Homo sapiens: one gene and its partners. The protein of the gene in region 2 interacts with the protein of the main gene of each other region in a pairwise test. Each region holds a gene or a part of one and is shown on either strand. Other genes may lie near its edges. The genes, in order: SLC44A3, IMPA2 and UBA3.

The links.
Region 1: the proteins of IMPA2 (region 2) and SLC44A3 interact in binary tests that used the Homo sapiens proteins (3 or more experiments, as listed by UniProt).
Region 3: the proteins of IMPA2 (region 2) and UBA3 interact in binary tests that used the Homo sapiens proteins (3 or more experiments, as listed by UniProt).

The regions. Positions count from the first base shown.
Region 1 is NC_000001.11:94,837,251-94,844,360, reverse strand, and holds part of SLC44A3 (choline transporter-like protein 3), read right to left. Parts: intron 6,651-7,110; coding exon 6,490-6,650; intron 4,414-6,489; coding exon 4,324-4,413; intron 2,362-4,323; coding exon 2,237-2,361; intron 1-2,236.
Region 2 is NC_000018.10:11,984,467-11,991,576, forward strand, and holds part of IMPA2 (inositol monophosphatase 2), read left to right. Parts: intron 1-7,110. UniProt on the Homo sapiens protein: Phosphatase that can use myo-inositol monophosphates, myo-inositol 1,4-diphosphate, scyllo-inositol-1,4-diphosphate, glucose-1-phosphate, beta-glycerophosphate and 2'-AMP as substrates in vitro.
Region 3 is NC_000003.12:69,063,273-69,070,382, forward strand, and holds part of UBA3 (NEDD8-activating enzyme E1 catalytic subunit), read right to left. Parts: intron 4,737-7,110; coding exon 4,656-4,736; intron 840-4,655; coding exon 796-839; intron 232-795; coding exon 167-231; intron 1-166. UniProt on the Homo sapiens protein: Catalytic subunit of the dimeric UBA3-NAE1 E1 enzyme. E1 activates NEDD8 by first adenylating its C-terminal glycine residue with ATP, thereafter linking this residue to the side chain of the catalytic cysteine, yielding a NEDD8-UBA3 thioester and free AMP.

The DNA of each region.
Region 1 (7,110 bases), on a different chromosome or scaffold from region 2:
AGAATAAGCACATCAGTTATTGACAAGGCCGTGGATGTCCTACAGTATGTCAGACTCAATTTATCCTGAATCAAATTCATTATCTTCATACTAGAACCTCCTCTTCCCCCTGTATTCTTTACCTCCAGTGGCCCTAATTTTTCTAGACTTTCCAAGAGTAAGTTAGGTTCCCCTCTTGTGTGCTCCCATTTTATTCCACACTTACCCTATTGTACTATTTAACATATTCTATAAATGTTTTCTCGTCTGAATTTCCCATTAGATTAGGCTCCTAGAGAGCAGGGCCATTCTTATGGTCAAGGACTGGCAAAGTGCCCAGTACAGTCTCAATCACCTCTGGTTCAGTTTCCTCAATACCGCTCATGCCTTCCTTTCCTCTCTGTTTCCACCGCTGATGCCACAGCTCAAGTCTCAGCCTCTTTCTTCTAGACCCCAATAACCTCATTAGCTTTCTGCATTTAACCTCCCTGACCACCCCCCCCACCCCGCCCCACCTCAGTCCCTCCTCCACTCCACAGCTAAGGGGACCTTTGTAAAGCGCAAACACAAAGATGGTGTTTCTCGGCTCAAAATCCATCTACGGCACCCCAGTGCCTCTGGAGAAAGATCAAACCTATCATCATTGCAGATCAGGACCTTTGTGACATGACCCTCCCTGCACCTGCATCTCAGGCTTCCATCAAGGGAACTTCCTGCAAGTCACACCCCTGCCCATGTGACCTCATGCATGCTGTGCCCTTGGCCTGAGATGCTCTTTCTCTTCCAGCTTTGCTGGAGCGTTTCTGCCGTCAACAGTCAAGTGGAGGAAAGACAGTGACAGTGGATAAACTGCAGAAGCTGCTCCAGGATCTGGGAGCACAGCCTCCTGACCATGCAGGGAGAGGTGTCAGGAGAGGCCCCGCAAGACACCCAGAGGAGACCCTTCAGTTGTAAAGGCTGAGGAGGAACTTCCATCTGGGCTTTTCTGAGGATGAGTGAACTAGCTCATCTAGCAACCGGGAATTGGTAAGAACTCACAACAAATGAACGGGAGGTGAGCTGGGACTCAATTCTGCCTTATAGAGTAGCCCCTGTGCAGAACTCATGGACCCAGGTGAAAACAGCCTCCCTGCTCACATGGCCTCCCCTCTCCCTAACCTTGCCCCGGCCCTGAAATCTGGGTGGCATAAATGGTGCAGTGTACAAACAAAAAGGGAGCCCTGTGGAGGGTAGACGGAGGAACTGGACCCTCCCCAGCCCCCAGCCCTGCTCCTCTTCCCCTATGCCCAGCCTGGGGAATGGGGAAGCCCTTTCATCTCCAGCCTCCTCTGCAGACTCTGTTGAGTGTCTGGTCTGGTCCCTGCCTGAGGCGAGAGCAACCAGGTGCTTTACTTTATTGTACCCTTACTCCCTGGCACATTTTATGTGAAGATCACAAACCCAAAACCTCACCGTGGAAAGGAGAAAATGTGAAAACTACCAAATATGAGAATAGAAGGATTTCCTATGAGAGAATTTTGTTGGTGTGAGAATCTGCATTTGCTGCAAGATTCAATGGGCTTGTGGAAACCCCTGGCTGCAGCTGCTCCACAGAACAGTCAGTAAGCAACACACCAGCAACGACGACTCTGGGGGACCTGAAGCCAGTGTGGGGTCCGCCCCAGGGCCTTGTGATTTGAGCCTTCCTAACGGCCCCTGGAGAGGGTCCTGAATGACATTTGGTTGCCAACCACCCACCACCAGTAACTAATACCTGCTCCCTCAATATTCTAAGTCAGCCTGTTTTCAGCTAGAGAGTTCACTGAGGAGGCAGCAAGTTCTCTGAACACCAAAATAACCCAGTGGCCAGCGGGTTTGGAAACAAAGGGCTCTGTGTGCTAGAGGGCAGCGGAAGCTGAGCATACACTGGCAAAGGGGAGCCGCACCTCACAAACAGGGAATGGGAACTGCCGTAAGCCTGCCTCCGCCCACCCACCATGCCCACCTTGTAGCCCCTTGGGGCTGAGAACAGTGCAACAGCAAGGATAACACAGTAGTCTCTGGGAGGTGGCAGAAATGACTTGGGAAGAACTAAAACCTTTTTTTCTTATTTTTGAAGAGTTTTGAATTATCCCTATACAGGTATCTCAAATCCAAAGAAGGCACATTCTAAATCAAAAGAAAAACAAATTATAGTTGTTTTTGGCTAGAATTCAATGATTTGGATTTCAGAGTCCTGGCTGGCTACCTGACCTACTGCTAGAAGAGCATTTCTTACCGTGATGCCTGTGGATACGATAGCAAACCCCAGCACGCACTTCATATTTTCCCTTTCTGTGTCCAATTCTATGCTGAGGTCGTTGGTATAGTCATAATACAGCCACCATAAAACACCGCAGACAACTAGAAAAGAGAACAGTAGCAGAGCTCAGGGCACACGCCATGAGGTAACCTTTCCCCAGCACACAGAATCACACAGGAAGTCCAGCCACTGCCCACCGGCCGCGTGGCACTGCTCTGGCAGTGGGTCCCAAATACCCGGACCCTACAAGCAACTGCTGCCCTCTGGAGAAGCTGGGCAGAGCCAGGGCAACCCATAGAGGACCCACAAGTTCTGGGATGATGCTTGTTTTGGGAGACCCAGGATGGTGACCCCAGAACACAGGCACCTAACCCACAGGTTGGGTCTGGATGCGAGCAGGAGGAAAACCCCATGGACAGGATGGTGAGAGGGACAATGCCAGAGCTCACTGTCTAAATGTTTTAAGCAAGCTCTGGTGGTGATAACTCCTGTGGAGCCTGGATATTGGCTGCTCACCCACAAAACCAGGAAAATTTACACGGCCTGTGGGAATCATGGAAGTCAGAAGCTCATTTGGAAGATGCCCTGACATTGCAAGTACTCCACATTTAGGTACGAAATACCACCTTATGCCATATCCACAGTAACTATAGGAAGGTTGGAGTGGACAGGAAGAAACAACCCTCAGAAGTCATTGTGCCTGTCCTCCGACACAGGGCTACAGGGCTCTAAGTTGCTGAGGGCAGAGCTGATGACTCAGGGGAAAGAAACATGACAATCACATCAGTTTTTAAAAATTAAAATATAGTCATCCACTGCATGATGACATTTTGATCAACAATGGACTGCATATATGATGGTGGTTCATGAGATTAATAATACTGTACTTTTCTGTGCTTAGATGTGTTTAGATACACAAATACTGACCATTCTGTTACAGCTGCCAACCGTATTCTGTACAGTAGCATGCTGTGCAGGTTCGTAGCCTAGGAGTAATAGGTTATACCATGTGCCTGGGTGTGTAGTAGGCTCTACCATCTAGGTTTGTGTAAGTGCACCCTGTGATGTTCACACAATGAGGAAATTGCTGAGTGATGCATTTCTCAGAACACATCCCTTCCTGTCATTAAGTGACACCTGATTGTACCCCACACCAGTTGGTAAATGGCTGCTGCCTTGAGCCTCCTGCGTGCCCTTGTCCCTCGGACCTCTTTCCCAACAACTGCTGGTGAGATCCACAATCCAGCAACCGGGAGGGAAATATGGGCACAGTACAGGGTCTCCAGGACTCTGCTTCCATGCAGGCCTGTGTGTCTTCTGGCTGGTCAGAACCTTTACATGACAACTGTGGGCACCCACGTGCCAATGGGTGAGGTGCGCATTCAGAAGAAATCCTTTAAAATGCTCCCAGTGGGTACTGGGATTCTCTTTTAACGTTATGGATACAGGATCACGGTATTGGAAAGCTCATCTCAGGGGCAGCATAGCACAGCAGAAGAAACTACAGATATGGCTGGACGTGGTGACTCATACCTGTAATCCCAGCACTTTGGGAGGCCAAGGTGGGCGGATCGCTTGAGCTCAGGAGTTGGAGACCAGACTGGGCAACATGGCAAAACCCCGTCTCTACAAAAAATACAAAAATTAGCTGGGTGTAGTGGCATGTGCCTGTAATTCCAGCTACCTGGGGGGCTGAGACAGGGGGATCGCTTGAGCCCAGGAGGTTGAGGCTATAGTGAGCTGCGTTCGCGCCATTGCACTCCAGCCTGGGCAACAAAGTGAGAGCCTGCCTCAAAAAAAAAAAAAAAAAAAAAAAAGGAAAAAGAAAAAGAAAAGAAAAGAAAGAAGAAAAAAAAGATTGGTCATTAACTTTGCACTGTCTGTGAGACATAGCAACTCCCATCGTCCTCCCTGAGGCCAAGTTTTCTCATTTGTAAAGTGACAGGGCTAGATACTCTTTAAGACTCCATGTAGCTTAAAAATGCCAACTTTTAAGTTCTGTACTTAATGTAAAGGCTTTTCATTTAATCGAAAAGAAATCAGTCAAGTAGAGAAATACTTACACAACAATCCCAAAATAACCAATGAAATGAAAATGTGAACCAGAAGGGTGGTGATGAATCTGAAGGTAAACATCATGGCCAAAGACAAGGCTGAAAAATTAAGCAAAACACATAAACCTCAATAGCAACAAAGGATAGGGGAGATGATGGTAGTACTGCGATGACAAAACCCTCCAGAACAGTGACGGCTGAGGATTGTATTCAATCTCTAAATATCTTGGGATATCTACTAAACACTAAATAAAAATAACAAGGTATACGTGGGGCAGTCTCTGATGCACCATTCAATCAAGTGTGGTAAGCCTGTCTCTGAAAGTCCTAGTATTCTTCTCAAAAATAAAAAAAATTTGGCCGGGCATGGTGCCTCACACCTATAATCCCAGCACTTTGGGAGGCCGAGGCGGGTGGATCACCTGAGGTCAGGAGTTCGAGAACAGCCTGGCCAACCTGGCAAAACCCCATCTCTACTAAAAATACAAAAATTAGCCAGGCATGGTGGCGGGCACCTGTAATCCCAGCTACTCGGGAGGCTGAGGTACAAGAATCGCTTGAACCCGGGTGGCAGAGGTTGGCAGTGAGCCAAGATCATGGCACTGTACTCCAGCCTGGGCAACAGAGCAAGACTCTGTCTCAATAAAAAAAAAGAAAGAAAGAAAAAAAATTTTATAGCAATATTATTCTCAAATGCCCAAATCTTTTTTTCTTACAAGTCCAAATGAACCATCTAAAATTATCATACTTAAATCTTTTGACTTCATACTGGGCTTATGTAAAGTTCTAACTTTACATGTTCTAAGGTACTCTTATTAAATATGAAAGATTAATAATGTCTTTAAAATGAAGAATTTAAGATCCTAACCATGAAATAAGCTGTATGTACTATTTTCGACATAGGAAATCAGGATTGCATCTAGATCAGAGTTATGTTTAGTAAGGTGGGTTTTGGGACCACACAGATCTGGGTTTGAGTCTTAGTTCTGCCACCTCTTCTCCTAGGTGTGCAACACTGGCCAAGTCCTAAACCTCTCTAAGCCTCAGTTTCATCTCCTATGAGTGGTACTGGGATTCTGATGAGGTTTTAATGAGTGAAGAATAAGTACAATGCCTGGCACATGGTAAGTGCTCAGTAAACGACAGCTGTTAATACCATTATGAATCTAATAAGCACATGACAATGTCCTTGCAGGGACATTAGGTCATTATATAAGATATCAGGAATAACCTGAGGTTTTTTTGTTATATATTGTAACCAAGCCAGTATTTGGGAGTCAAAGCATCTTGTTTGAGTCAATTGAAGTCATTTTCAGCCTAAGTAAGAAGTCTGAAAGTCATAATAGTGACTAGTTAAATATCCCCAAGCATTCAGGAATTAGGAACCTTTTAGTAATGAAATTGTGGAAAACTCAATTTGTTAACTGTTAGAAATATGTTAATGTCTGACCAAAGAGTTTCTCTCTACCAAGAGGTTTGTGGGCTGCCACTGGAAAGCGAGGAGACAATAGGCTCTTACCACTGTCTAAAGGGGCAGAGTGTATTCACCTGTTCAAAGAGAAAGTTGGCTCTTGATTTCAGCCAACTGAAACATAGAAAATGGGAACTCAAAAGATCAAGAGTGGGTAGCTGCTTCCAGAAATGCCCAGAGAAGGCTGAAGGCCTTGACCTGTCTACAACCCAAAGCAGGTATGTCCCTTAGAGGAGCAGGATACAGCAGGCCCTTGCAGTCTGACTCCATTTAACATGGATGCATACATGTCCTTGCCCTGCTCACCAAGCAGCTTTCTGATCTGCTTTCTGATCCACCTACAGGTGGAGGCATGTTTGGCCAGAAGACATGGTTTCTGGTCACCCTGACAGTTGTATTTTTCATGTCCCATCCACAAATTGGCAATCTGCTTTATATACCCATCCCCAGTGAGGAGCAGACACTAGAACATAGTCAGTATATCAAGGCAACCCTACCCACTGAGGCTTTCTGCCAGAGGGCCAGCCGCTCCTCTATTCGTATTGCCCCCATCCCACTTAAATCTGAAACACTGAAAATATCTATTAAAAATACAGAGTTTTATATTTAAAACAAGAGGCTAATTTTCATTGTACAACATATAAAATGCTAGGAACTTTGGCATTCCATAAACAACTATTAAAATTAACTTAACTGAGAATTACCTAATGCGAGGATACACAGGCCAAGGATTGTATCTCTTCCCGACATGATTCCACTTAGAATTCGGTGGAGGGTGTCAACATCATTTATCAAAACAGATGCAAATAGGGAGTAGCACTCAGGTGTTTGAGGGACACATCGGTTAAATAAGGGAAATGACTTGCTAAAAATAGAGAAAAAAAGATGGCAAAAATGTTTATTTAACATTTATCTTTAAAAGATGTTTATTTAACATTCTCAATAACCAAAAAAGCTTAAGAACTACAGTAATAGAGAGGCGTCTAGCATGCCATTTGCAGAGCACACCTTAGAAAGCCAGGCAAGTATGCTCTGCTACATCGATTAGCTGATGTTCTGAATAGGAAGTTGATTATGGGAACCCACAGAAACCAAAAACCTAAACTTGGGGAGCAACATTTTTAAAAATAAAAATTGCACATATTTAAGGTATACAATGTGATATTTTGATATATATAAACTTCATGAAATGATTGCTACAGTTAAGCTAATGAATGTATCCATAAATTCCCATAGTTATCATATTTTGAGAAAACTGAAGATCTGTTGTATCAAATTTCAAATATACAATACAGTATTATGAACTATAGTCACCATGCTTTACT
Region 2 (7,110 bases):
CCTTTCAAATCCCCCCGCGGAGCTGAACCAGCTTCTGTTGGGCCAGAAACTTAGACAATTTAGGGGGCCCTCTTTAAGAAAATACAAACTTTGCCAGATGTGGTGGCTGAAGCCTGTAATCCCAGCACTTTGGGAGGCTGAGGCTTGTGGATCACCTGAGGTCGGGAATTTGAGACCAATATAGTGAAACCCCATCTCTACTAAAAATACAAAAACTGTGGCCGGGCGCGGTGGCTCACGCCTGTAATCCCAGCACTTTGGGAGGCCGAGGTGGGCAGATCACAAGGTCAGGAGATCAAGACCATCCTGGCTAACACGGTGAAACCTCGTCTCTACTAAAAAATACAAAAAATTAGCCGGGCGTGGTGGCGGGCGCCTGTAGTCCCAGCTACTCAGGAGGCTGAGGCAGGAGAATGGCGTGAACCCGGGAGGCGGAGTTTGCAGTGAGTAGAGATCGTGCCACTGCACTCCAGCCTGAGCGACAGAGCAAGACTCCGTCTCAAAAAAAAAAAAAAAAAACAACAAAAATCAGTCGAGCGTGGTGGCACACGCCTGTAATCCCTGCTACTAAGGAGGCTGAGGCAGGAGAATCCCTAGAACCTGGGATGTGGAGGATGCAGTGGTGAGCCTAGGTTGCACCACTGCACTCCAGCCTGGGTGATAAGAGCGAAACTCTGTCTCAAAAAAAAAAAAAAAAAAAAAAGAGAAAATACAAAATTACAAATTCAAACTTAGATATAAAAGTTATTTAGAATAAGAACAATCACATCTATAAATTTCTAAGGTGCTAAGAAATACTGCAAATATCACGAAATACACAAAAATAACAATTCTTTCACTGCTTCTCATACTTCCGTAATACTTTTTGCCCTTTTTCTGGTTTCATACTGTTTGCATCTTTTGAATGATAATGATTTTGTAATACTTTATATGGGGAGAATAGAAAGATAAATTCAGCATTTCCTGTTGCTTGGCTTATTGAAATTTATTACTGATAATTTAGAAAATTTAGGCTTCAAACTTGTTACTGGTAACAATTGGCTTATAAATTTTTAGGATGTCATCAAATTGAGAACCTTCTATGAATTTTTTTATACATTAGTTGTAAGTGAGTCTGTTTTTCACAGACTTGCTCCTGGCTCTGTGCAGTTGAAATCTGGTTTATTTTTGTGATCCACACATTTTCAGTGCCAGTGTCTGTGTCCACCTCATGTGCTCCTCTGGTCCTGTATGTTTTTGTCACCATGCCAGGTGGGTCGGCGTGATGGACAGGGGAGTATGCCTGGAAGCCCTTTCTACACTGGATGGCTCTCAGTAACTTACAGAGAAATGTGACTGCAAACCCTATTGAAGCAAAGTTAGTTCATCTACTCAGCTTATCTTTAGCCCACACTGGCTGTATCCACGCCAGTGCCACCTGATGCAAAGTCTGATGGAAGGACAGTTTAAGTGGAAAGGCACAAGGTTAGATCTACAGTCAAAACAGCTGACTTTTGCCCATTACAAAAGGGGTTTGTGTACGGCTTTGTGAACACTTTGTTAGGGTCCCTTGCAGGCAAGTGGGGGCCTTGATGCTTAAGCGTCATTAGCTTCACAGGAAATTCATCTCTGTTTACTTGTAACAAAATCTCAGGACAAAGCAGAAAAAGAAAAACCCAGCACTGACCTCAGGACCGCAGACTTCCCCCTTCTCTAGTTGGCCTTGCACACCCTTGCAGGTTATGCTTCCCGAGGCCCGGCCTTGCGAAGTGAGCCTGTCGTCCCCTTGTCCGGCCAGATCTGGTCGCTCTGCTTGGTGTTTGCAAAACACATGTTGTATTTTCTTGCCTTTCTTCTGGCCTATGGAGTATGCAAACCATTGCCTGTCTCCAGAGCCCGGCTCCTGAGCCCCTTCCTTCATGGACCGCTTCTCAGGTGGCCTTCCCTGTCTTTCCAGTGCCCCACCTGGTCCTGCTGAGCTGGCACTCCTCATGACTTTATTTATCCTTGCCTGGTGGTGTGCCCTCCACACAGTGGGTCCTTGGAATATGAATACTCTTTTGTCTACCTCTGGCTCTTCAGGGCAGAAGGCACATTGGTGGGCTCTGGACCCGTGTCCCCACTTGTCCATCTGGCTTTACCAACACAGTATTGTTTTGATTTGTGATTTTCCTTTTTGCTGGTTATTCACACCGGGAATTTAATGAGTGACGTAACACTGAAAGCACATGATGAAGAACAGCAGCACCTGGCCCACACTCCTCACCCCTTGTCCTGTGTCCGGAGTCCCTGTTCTCAATTTTCTGAGAGTTACACCCATTTCTAAGTAATATGCTTCTGTCGTGCTTTCTTGAGTTGTTCATTGTTGACAGAATTATTCTGTGTTACGCCGTGTAGTGGCCCTGCCCGTGTGGTTCTGTGGGTGTCCATGTCCATGTTCGGATGGCCATGCAGATGTAACTCATGGTTCAGCCCGGCAGTGTATTCCTTTCTTTCTAATGCAACTTGTATTTTCGTTAAAGAATGTTTTGTTTTGTTTTGCTTTGCATTTGTCTAGTTTTCTGTATACCTATTGTGAGCCATCCATCTTCCCAGCAGGATTTTTCATGATCTCCTTGGTGTGGTCACACTCCTTGGGTCGCTGCTGTGGAGCAGTGCTTCTCCAGCTTTGGCTGTGTTGGAAGCCCAAGAGGGCTTATTAAGGCAAATGGGGTCCCACCGCAGGGTTTCTCATTCACTAGGTCTGGAGTGGGCACCAGAATACGCATTTCTAACATTCCCAGCTGACATAGATGCTGCTAGTCTGGAGTGGCACAATGGGAACTTCCGCTGCATGGTATTTTATTATGTGAGTACATCACTATTCATTCAACTGTTTTATTTATTATTTATTTTTATTTTTTGAGACGACGTCTAGCTCTCTCGCTCAGGCTGGAGTGCAGTGGCGTGATCTTGGCTCATCAAAACCTCTGCCTCCCGAGTTCAAGTGATTCTCCTGCCTCAGCCTCCTGAACAGCTGGGTCTACAGGCATGCGCCACCATGCCTGGCTAATTTTTGTATTTTTAGTAGAGACGGCGTTTCACCATATTGGCCAGGCTGATCTAGAACTCCTGACCTCAAGTGGTCCACCCGCCTTGGCCTCCCAAAGTGCTGGGATTACAGGCACGAGCCACTGCGCCTGGCCTCATTCAACTCTTGAGCAAACTGGATAATGTCCAGTTTGAAGTTAATACGGGTAACGTTGCTGTGAACTTTCTTGCACATGTCTTTTGATTATGTGTGCATTTCTGTTGGGGATTTATTAATAGTAGGAGTAGAATCGCTGTGTCATTGGGAATGTAAATTCTGCCAAGTAGTTCTCTAAAGAGGATGTACCAAGTTACACTCCACCCTGCAGTGTGTGAGGGTTCCCTTTTCCCCACGTCTTCCACAACATGTGGTATGGTCTGTCTTTTATATTGTAGCCATTCTGATGGGCTTGAGTTGGTATTTTATTGTAGTTTTAATTTGCGTTTCTTAGATAATTAATGAAGTTAAATGCACATGTTTATTGGCTTTTTTTTTTTTTTTTTTTTTTGAGACACAGTCTTGCTCTGTCGCCCAGGCTGGAGTGCAGTGGTGCGATCTCAGCTCACTGCAACCTCCGCTTCCCGGGCTCAAGCAATTCTCCTGCCTCAGCCTCCCGAGTAGCTGGGATTACAGGCATGTGCCACCACGCCTGGCTAATTTTTGTATTTTTAGTAGAGATGGGGTTTCACCATGTTGGCCAGGCCAGTCTCAAACTCCTGACCTCATGTGATCCACCCACCTTGGCCTCCCAAAGTGCTGGGATTACAGGCGTGAGCCACTGTGCCCAGCTGTTTATTGGCTTCTTTGATATTATTTGCTTTTAAAATGATGGTAATAACACATTGATTATAAATTTATTCATCCAACAAAGAATCATTAACAACTCAGGAAAGGACTTTAGCCTTTTTACTCTGAATGTGAGGGGAGGTTTGGGGCAGAGTCTTGTGTGGGGCTTTATAGGACTCTATATAGGGGACCACCCTGGCTGCTGCATGAGGTCCTTTGTGGGACACTAGGGAGACCAGAATCAGGTATCTGATAGGAAGCCACGTGAGAAATGAGGGTGGATTTGACTGGGGTGCATGAAGAAGGTGGTGAAGAAGATTTACTTTGGAGGCTGAGATGACAGCCTCTGAGTTGGATGTGGGGTGTGAGAGAAAGAGAGGAGCCAAGGGTGACTTCAGGGGTTTAGGCCTGAAAAGCTGGTTGAATGGATTTGCCACTTTCCGAGATGGCAAAACTGCAGGAGGAACAGGTTTGGAGCTGAGAGTCGAGTGTTCTCTTCTGTGCAGGTTAAGCTCGAATTGCCAGTAGATTTCTTATTTTATTTTTTTGAGACAGGGTATCGCTTTGTTTCCCTGGCTGGAGTGCAGTGGTGCAATCACAGCTTCTACCTCCTGGGCTCAAGTGATTCTCCCACCTCAGCCTCCTGAGTAGCTGGGACTACAGGCATGTGTCACCATGCCTGGATAATATGTATTTTTTAATTTTTTGTACAGACGGGGTTTCACTAAGTGGAGATGTTGGATTTGCACCCAAGCTGACGGCAGAGATGCAGTGTGGAAGTCATATTCCTGGAGATGGTATTTAGGGCCATGTCCCGGACAGGAGGAGAGCAGGCTTGGCCACTGATGGGCTTTGCCGTCGGATGAGCTCAGGTCAGGCTCCCATTTTCCTCCTTGGGAGCCTCACAAATGCCAGTTTGTGGAGGTCATTTCTGAAGTGGTTCATTTCTCCAGAAAAGGCTTCCCTGCTCTTCCTGCCTGGGCTGAGCGCACCTGTCGCTGGAGGAAGAGGAGGCAGGAGGGGGAGAGGAGGCGGTGGTGATGGCCTCCAGCTCCTGCCTCGCCTGGTCCACACCTGCAGTGTTTGCTTAGCTCTGCAGGGTGGGGTCAGCCTACGTGAGAAATTCGAAAACTCAACAACATTTCAAACATCAGCAGAGACAGAATTCCTGTGAGACAGCAGCTGGCAGGCACAGAGTAGCAGCTGTCCCTTTGGTGGGGTGGGGGTCGGTACATGGTCTCCAAGGGTCCGAGGCCCACTGCTCCTGACCCTATCTGAGAGGTCCCTATCATTTCCTACCCATTTTGCTAACAAAAGCTGTCTCAGAAGAAGGGGGAGGGCAGAAGGCACTGCCCTTGCCTCTGGGCAGCCTCATCCCAGCCCTTGGCACTCCAGGGTGCCAGTGAGGTCCCACCTGTGCCCCCTTAAGGAGAGGCTGGTAGATGGCTCATCCCCACGGGGAGAGTGAGTCCTGGACTCTGTGGCCCTGAGCTTGTCACTTGCTCACCCCAATGAAGCGCTGCCCAGGGGAGATTACTGTCTTTGGAGTTTGGGGCAGGAGGGTGGGTGAAATCACTCAGCCAGAGGATGGAGAGGCTGCTAGTGAGATACAGGCCCCCTCCTCGAGCTTTAGGGGTGGAGGAAGGCAGGAGCTCAAAGGCATGGGGAGCTGAGACATTGAGAAGGAGAGGGGAGTTCCGGAGTCTAGGCCCCTCCCTCTCTCCTGGCCTCCTCCTGGGCCCAGTGGAGACAGGAGCCTGGAGCCTGGTTTGCGTCTTCTCTCTTCTGTGGGAGTGAGGGAAGGCTTTGGTCTCTAGGCTGAGCCAGTCTCAGGATCCTGTGTCCGTTGTCCCAGCTCTGCCCTAGCCTGCCATGAGCGCTGCAGGAGGCCTTCTGCAGGCTGGCGCCCTGCCCCTGGGCTCACCTTTCATGTGAGAGATGGAGGAGGTGCAGACCTGGCCAGTCACTGCAGTGTGCAGGCGGACTGGGAGGCCATCCCAGCACCTGGGATGTGGACAGCTTCCTGGAAGAAGTCACAGCTGAGTGTGTCTTTAGAAAAAAAGCAGGAGTCAGCTAGGAAGGTTAGGTGATGGGCTTGGGGAGGGGAGAGAGAAGAGGAGGGGTCGGGGCCAATAGAGAAGATGAAAGCAGAAGGGGCAAAAGAGAACATAGCACCAAGGACCTCCAAGAAATGCACTTTGGCTAAAGTTTGAGGTGGGAGAGGTCAGGACTTGGGGGCCCCGTGTGGAGGGCAGAATTGCAGGTGGGTGTCCTGCTCGAACTGATGGGGTGTGGCCCTTGGGGGCTGTGAGTTGGGGTGGACTTGATGAGTCGTACATTGAAGGAGACATAGGAATAAAGGACTTCTGGGTTTCTGGCTCATGCAGCTGGCTGGCTCTCATTGCTTTTGAGAGAAATGTGAGCTGGAGAGGGATTAGGAAGTAATCAATTGTGACGGCTCCAGCCGTGGGGTCGGCTCTGTTTAGCGATGGTGGACTTGGACTGTGGTGCTGGGAACCCCTTCCCTATACCTTACAGCTGCAGGGCCTTGGGCAACTTTCTCCATTTCTTTTTGCCTCCGTTTCCTCATCTTTAACGTGGAGAATAATTTTTGCTGTCCTCAGAGTTACTGTGTGGAATAAATGTACATGTGAACTGCTCAGAACAGCACGGGGCAGAAGAAGCGCTCTGTAAGCTTGAGCTCAGGCCGTGGAGCTGGGCAGGGTGTGAGGTGGAGGCCATCTCCAGGAAGCTCAGCTGCTGAAGGCAGGTCCGAGGGCTTGCAAACACCCACTTTCAAGGAATAGTGGGAGGGAGATGAGCCGCAGAATGGTGGGGAGATAGGAGGAAAGCCACGAGGGGAGGCAGGGGCCACAGGCCACGGGCCCTGGAACACAGGGAATGCAGCTGGGATGTGGGTGACGGGTGGCTGCTGGCATTGGTATGGAAGGTGCCAGTGCCTTGTCAGGGCGGAGGGCGACTAGAGATCAAGGTGAGGGGAAAAATAGCCACGAGACTAAAGGAGGCGTTGAGGATTCGAGAGCCTGAGGTGGGCTGGCCTGGGAGCCACGTCTGCTTGGACCAGCTCCTCCTCTTCCTCCCAGGGTTGAGGTTGTACAGAGATTTGTGACGCATCAACAGCTGTGAACTGCTGACCACATGTGCCACATGACACCATGTGATAGGCGTGTTATTACCTGGGTACCCGATGAACTGTTAGGTTTTATTGATTGTCACACGTATCAGGTTCTTCAGAGAAACAGGACCGGCAGGAG
Region 3 (7,110 bases), on a different chromosome or scaffold from region 2:
TTTGTGTCTTCACCTGAAAACCAATGACTGGCAATAAACAATGAAGTAAATATACTTAATTAAAAATTAAACTCTGATTTTTCAAAAATATATCAATTCTAATTTTGGGGATGTGAAGCACAGCAGCAAGAACTTCAGAGAACTATAACAATACTAAAGTCTTTACCAGCATGCCATTTATCCATCTTCTGGCGATGATAGAGTCCAGTCCACATACAATAATATGAAATTCTACAAAAAAAAAAAAAAGCAACTTTAGTTTTTAAATATGTAGTTGCATGATGATCTTTCAATGTAGATTCATCAACTGCAACAAATGTACCACTCTGGTGCAAGATGTTGATTAGGAAGGTAGTGTGTTTGTGGGAACAGGAAGCTCTATGAGAACCCAAGTTTTCAAAAATTTTCTGTTCAATTTTGTTGTGAACATAAAACTGCCCTAAAAAATAAAGTTTACTAATTAAAAAAAAAAAGCACTTGCAGAAAACAATTTGCACGTTCTAAGAAACCAACAAAAAAACCACAAGCACTTTTTACTGTAATCCCACATACGTTCTCAGAGCTCCAATTCCTTGAGTGAACTCTCATTCAGGTAAGCATAGAAACTTGTAGCTGGTCATGTCAGCTAAAACTAGCATTCTCTTTTCAGTCTATCAGCAACATTACTGAAAAGCCAACAGTGAGAGAGGAAAGCAAGTGAAGAAATAGCCTTGAAATAGCTAGCAATATTTGAATAGCTACCAACTAAAAAATTCTAAGAATCTAGTGAGCATTAATTTCAAGTAAAAAACTTACGTCGATAGAAAGTGTCGTTAAAATCTTGAATCTTGTTGAAATGTCTGAATACAAGTAAAGGAACTTAAGCAGCTAAGTTTTAATTTCTAAAATGAATTTGACAATGCCATAAGGAACACACTCTGCATATATTTACAACAAGAAATAAGTAATCAATGTTCACATCAGTGGAATTCAAGGAATCTGACTAAATGAACACAACTCTCCTTTCTGACAAAACTTTTCTGCCATTCCTCCCCTAACTACTTACTTTTTCTCATTCCTGAACCCCTATATCATTATATTTATGCCCTTGGTAGGAGGTATACTTTCTACTTTGCTTTGGTTTTTATATAAAACCATAAGCCCCAGGAAAGCAGAATGTGTGTCCTCAATCATCAGCATCAAGAAGAGATGCAATAAATGTTTTAGTGAAGGAAAGATGCACATTATAGTTCCTATTTTGCTAGGTGATTTTAAGAGTTACTGCAAAGCTCATTTTTTTAACATACAGAAAATTTCAACAGCTTTTTCAGTTGGTAAAGATTTTACTGTTTTTATTTTTTGTGGGGAGGAGAAAAAGTACGAATTTTTTCTACCTTTCTCATTTAACTCAGTTTTCAAGTTACCCTACCAAATCCTATTACCAGTCTTCCCATCCCTGGAGGCTAAAAAGGAAACTCCATTCAAAACTGATTGTGGGTGAGTCAATATAGCACTTAATGTTTTAATAGCACATGTGTGCAAAAACTTGTTTTAATTTTTCTAATGAATGGAGCAATTGTTTAATAATTTATAAATTATGCAACTTCTCTAAAGTTAAGATAAATAGTCCACTATAAATTTTTTAAAAGCAATACAGAGAAAAAAGGGACAATACATAGAAAAAAGGGACAATACATGCTTCCTCTAGATTTTTAATTCTTGCCTACAAATAAAGCTATGAACAATAATTTCAATTCTAGCCCTCAGTCATTCAGACCTCTATTCCCTTTGAATGCTAGGCAAGCAGGAGAACGAAGCTACAGCTAGAAAGAGGTCAAAAAAGAAACAAAGCAAACAGTGGAGGAATGGCAATCAGGGAACCAAGAGCCAGACTAAGAAATCTAATCTGGATTTCTAGAAAATACCCAAAGTTTCCCAGACCCACATAATGGGGATAGACAAACTGAGTGCCCCCCACTAACCAACCCACCCCCACCAACTCTTCCTTTTTCCCTACAGGGGCCTGTATTTGCATTTTTAAGCTCTTTATTTTGAAATAATATAGATTCGCAGTAAGTTGCACAGATAGTATAGGTAGGTACCATGCACCTTTCCCAGTTACATCTTACTATAGTACAGTACCAAAACCATGAACAGAACATTGGTACAATGTGTGTTTATAATTCTGTCATTTAAACACACATAGATTTGTGTAACCACCACCCCAGGCAACACACATAACTATTCGACCACAATAAAGATCTCTCTGCAGCCTCCACATCCTGGGCTTAACTGATCTTCCTGCCTCAGCCTCCCACATAGCTGGGACTACAGGCATGTGCCACCATGCCCGGGTAATTTTTCTAGTTTTTACAGAAATAGGGTCTCATTTGTTGCCTAGGCTGTTCTCAAACAACCAGGCTCAAGTGATCTTCCCGCCTCAGCCTCCCAAAGTGCTGGAATTACAGGCCTGAACCACCACACCCAGCCATCTCTATAATTCTGTAATTTCAAGAGTATTATATAAACAGAATCATGCAGTATATGACCTTTTGAGACTGGCTTTTTTTTTTTAGTCTAATAGTTGTGTAACAGTATCGCTCATGGTGGTCTTAGTTTGATGTGAAACATCTTTTCATGTGCTTTTCGTCATCCTTTTTAGTAAAATATCTCTTCCTATCTTTTGTCTATTTTCTAATTGAATTTTTTTTTGTTTTACTGTTGAGTTTTTAGAGTTCATTATATACTCTAGATATGAGTCCTCCATCAGATGCTTTACAAGTATTTTCTCCAGTCTGTGGCTTTTCTTCATCCGTTTAAGAGGGTCTTTCACACAGCAAGTTTTTAATTTTGATGAAGTTCAGTGTATCAATTTTTTCCTTTTATGGCTCATGCTTTTACAAAAAATTATTTTAATTTTTTAGAGATGATGTCTCACTACATTGCCCAGGCTGGAATGCAGTGGCTATTCACAGTATGACCACAGCCTACTATAGCTTCAAACTCCTAGTCTCAAGCAATCCTCCCACCTTAGCCTCCCAAGCAGCCAGGACTCTGTAGTGGTATGATAAAAGCTCACTGCTTCCTCAGTGATCTGCACCACCATACCCCACCTTTTACAGGTCTTGCTTTTGACGTGGCCTAAGCACTCTCCACCAAACCCTAAAGTTCTATCGTTTTATGGTTTTTTGTGTTTTTTTTTGTTTTTTTGAGATGGAGCCTTGCTCTGTCGCCCAGGCTGGGGTGCAGTAGCGCAATTTCAGCTCACTGCAACCTCAGCCTCCTAGGGTCAAGCGATTCTCCCACCTCAGCCTCCTGAGTAGCTGGGAGCCACTGTGCCCGGCTAATTTTTGTATTCTTAGTAGAGACGGGGTTTCACCATGTTGGCCAGGCTGGTCTCGAACTCCTGACCTCAAGTGATCCACCCACCTCGGCCTCCCAAAGTGCTGGGATTACAGGCATGAGCCACCACGCCTGGCTCATTTTATATTTTATATTTACACCTATAATCCATTTTGAGTTAATTTTGTATGTTTAGGTCAAAATTCATCTTTTAACTATGGATATGAAATTGCTCCAGTACGATTTGTTGAAGACTATGCTTCTTCCATTGGAACTGTTTTGCACCTTTATCAAAAACAAATTGGCCATACTTATATGGGGCTATTTCTGGCTTCCCTATTCTGTTCTAGTCATCTATATATCCCTCTGGTAACGCCACTGAGTCTGGATTACTATAGCTATATAAGTCTAGAATTTGGATAGTGATTCCTCCCACTTTCTTTTTCAGATTTGTAGTAGGTATTCCTTTGCTTTTCTATATAAAATTTTAGAAGATCGTCTATATCGACAATTTTGCTGGGATTTTAATAGAAACTATGGTATATATGTATACAAATTTAGGGAGAAATGACATCTTTACTATATTTAATCTTCCAATCTTTGAAGATGGACTATCTCTCCATTTATTTAGATTTTCTTTGGTTTCTTTCATCAGCATTTTGTAGTTTTTCACTATATAAATCTCTTACTTATCTTGTAGTTTACATCTAAGTATTTATTTTTCTTTCTAAGCAGTTGTAAATGGCATTGTATTTTACATTAACTTTCACAAGTTCACCGGTATGTTGATTTTGTATTCTGTGGGACTTTCTACATAGAAATCACATCTTCTGACTTTCTATAAAATGCCAAAAGTTCTCCAGATCTAAATTCAAACTACAGTGTAAATACTCCTTTTTAAAAACATATTTCTTGTAAAAATAAATTTACTGTGATGTACCTTCCATTTGGCTAATACTATATTGACTGTCTACTCTGTCTGCTACTATAAAGAAACAAAGATTAATTGGATCCAGCCTAGGAATTTACACTCTAGTAAAGGAGATATGTAATTGATACTGAAATTAAGGGCAATAATGCAAAATAAAGTAGATGATGAAACAGGCTTTATAAACTTAAGTTAAAAATCAGGGCCCAAAAAATATTTATATAACCATACAGAAAAGACTGGAAGAATAGATAGCAAAATGTTACCAGCAGTTATCTCAGTAATAAAGTTACTACTGCTGACTTTTTTTCCCTCTTGCTTATCTGTATTCTCTGTTAAATATCTCTTATAATAAAGGAAAAAAGCTTTTAAAAATTAAGTAATTTTCTTTTTGTCAAAAGGATACGGAACTACATTGCAATTAGGAACTCTGTCATTTAGAAATTCTGCAGCAACTTCAGCCTTAGGTCTTCCAATATCTTTAGGCCTACAGGAAAAATATTTAAATTATAATTCATATTATAAATCTATATGATCTACATAACTTATTTTCAAACATAAAAGTAAATTCACAGTAAGTTTACTTATAGGAAATTTAGAAGGAATATTTTTGCCTAAGTATTTTGATTTCAGTAATAACTTTTGGTAAACGGTCATTTAACCTTAAATGTCAACCCTTGCTAATGGTCCAAATTAACATAAGTCTAATTAAGTATTGCTTTAATTAAGAGAAAATCTGAACAGTGTTCTTCCTCCCAGATAAAGCATAATAATGCTATGATTCCTGGCCACTTTCCACTGTAAAAAATTATCCCACTCTTAGAGCTCAGAACCTTATGGTGTTACTCCACAGGTCTTGGCTGAAATATACACAATAAGATTCATCCTTGGGATGCAAGAACCTTCATTTAACCCCTTCTTCCTGTGTGTGCTGATTAAGCAGCAAATTTTGTGTCCCCTAAGAAGCTGCATGAAAAAGAAAAAAAAAGAAAAAAAAAATTTCACTGGACCGTATATAAAATGGAAAAAAAAAAAAAAAAGAGGCTGTAACCACGTTTTTTTCTTTTTTCTTTTTGAGACGGAGTCTCACTCACTCTGTCACCCAGGCTGGAGTGCAGTGGTGCGATCTCGGCTCACTGCAACCTCCGCCTCCCAGGTTCAAGCAATTCTCATGCCTCAGTCTCTAGGGAGGTGAGATTACAGGTGCCTGCCACCACAACCAGCTAGTTTTTGTATTTTTAGTTTTGCCATGTTGGTCAGGCTGGTCTCGAACTCCTGACCTCAGGTGATCTGCCCGCCTCAGCCTCCCAAAATGCTGGGATTACAGGCATGAGCCACCATGCCCGGCACCAAGTTTTTAAAGAAAGAATAATACCAAAAGTGTCAGCTAAAATTGCAAATGTTACTATTACATCACAGAAGCTGAATATATAAGGCCTCAAAAGGTCACTCTTAAAACAATAACCACACATATAGATAGGAAAGGATATGAATTTCCTCCTCTAAGTTCTATACAAATGGTATTTTCTTTCCTAATATTTCCATATTCTCCTCAGAGAAATCACTCCATGTATATAATAAGAACATTATTACTTTTTTCGTAACATATTTGCTACATACACGTCTATCATACCCACTAGACTATTATTTGGATGAAAGTGACCATGTTCTTACTCTCTTCATATTCCTTCCTACCTAGCACACAGTAAATACTTTTAAAATAAATGAAAATAATAAATCGTGTGCTTATTAGAAAAAAATCTGAAATTTCAAAGAAAAACACTTTAGCATGTCAATTTTTCTTTTCTTTTTTTTTGTTTGTTTGAGACAGAGTCTCGCTCTGTCACCCACGCTGGAGTGCAGTGGCACAATCTCGGCTCACTATAACCTCTGCCTCCCAGATTCAAACAATTCTCCTGTCTCAGCCTCCAGAGTGCTGGGACTACGGGCATGAGTCACTACGCCTGGCTAATTTTTGTATTTTTAGTAGACACAGGGTTTCACCGTGTTGGCCGGGCTGGTCTCGAACTTCTGACCTCAAGTGATCCGCCCACCTTAGCCTCCCAATGTGCTGTGATTACAGGCATGAGCCACCATGCCAGGCCAATTTTTTTTCTCTCCAATAAAGCACTGTTCTTTTTTGATTCAAAACTTTTGGTAAATGTTTTATCTTCACTTTGTACTAACTTACATAAAAAAGGCCCTGTTATAAATCAAAGAACTTAATTTCAGTATTGCATTCAATGGCTCCACACACAGAAAGCTCTTTTGGTTTGTAAAAGGGATAAAGTAGACTTCTAAGATTATTTTAAGTAATATATTCTATGTGCTTTTATGGCACGGCCCAAACAAAAGAACTCCTAGATGGTTTCTGGGAACTGTTTGTTAATTTACCATTCCAGGATGAAACAATCAGATTGCTCCACCTCAATAAAATGGCCTTTCACACACATCATCCTTGCAGGACACTCTGCCCAAATTATTTAACCTTGAACACAAGAACCTACCCTGAGGTTGCTGAGATTAAATGGAATAATATGGATAGTTTAGAAGTACTTGCTACATATCGTTATTACCATCTTCAACCATTTTAGCCACAAATTAAAGGGTATGGCCTGTATCAATAACAAATCAATTCAGTGGTATCTTTTTCAGAGAATTCACAACTCAAAATTTGACAAGCTGGACAGAGCCCACAAACTTTGCTATAGAGAAGGGAAATTTCAAAGGTTAAAAAATAAACAAAAAATAAAGCTTAAAAGTTAAACATTAAGGGTCACACTGCAATTACAACACTTCATTAACTTATTTTAATCCATACTTCAGTCCCATTAAGATCTTCCACAAAGATAATGTAGAGG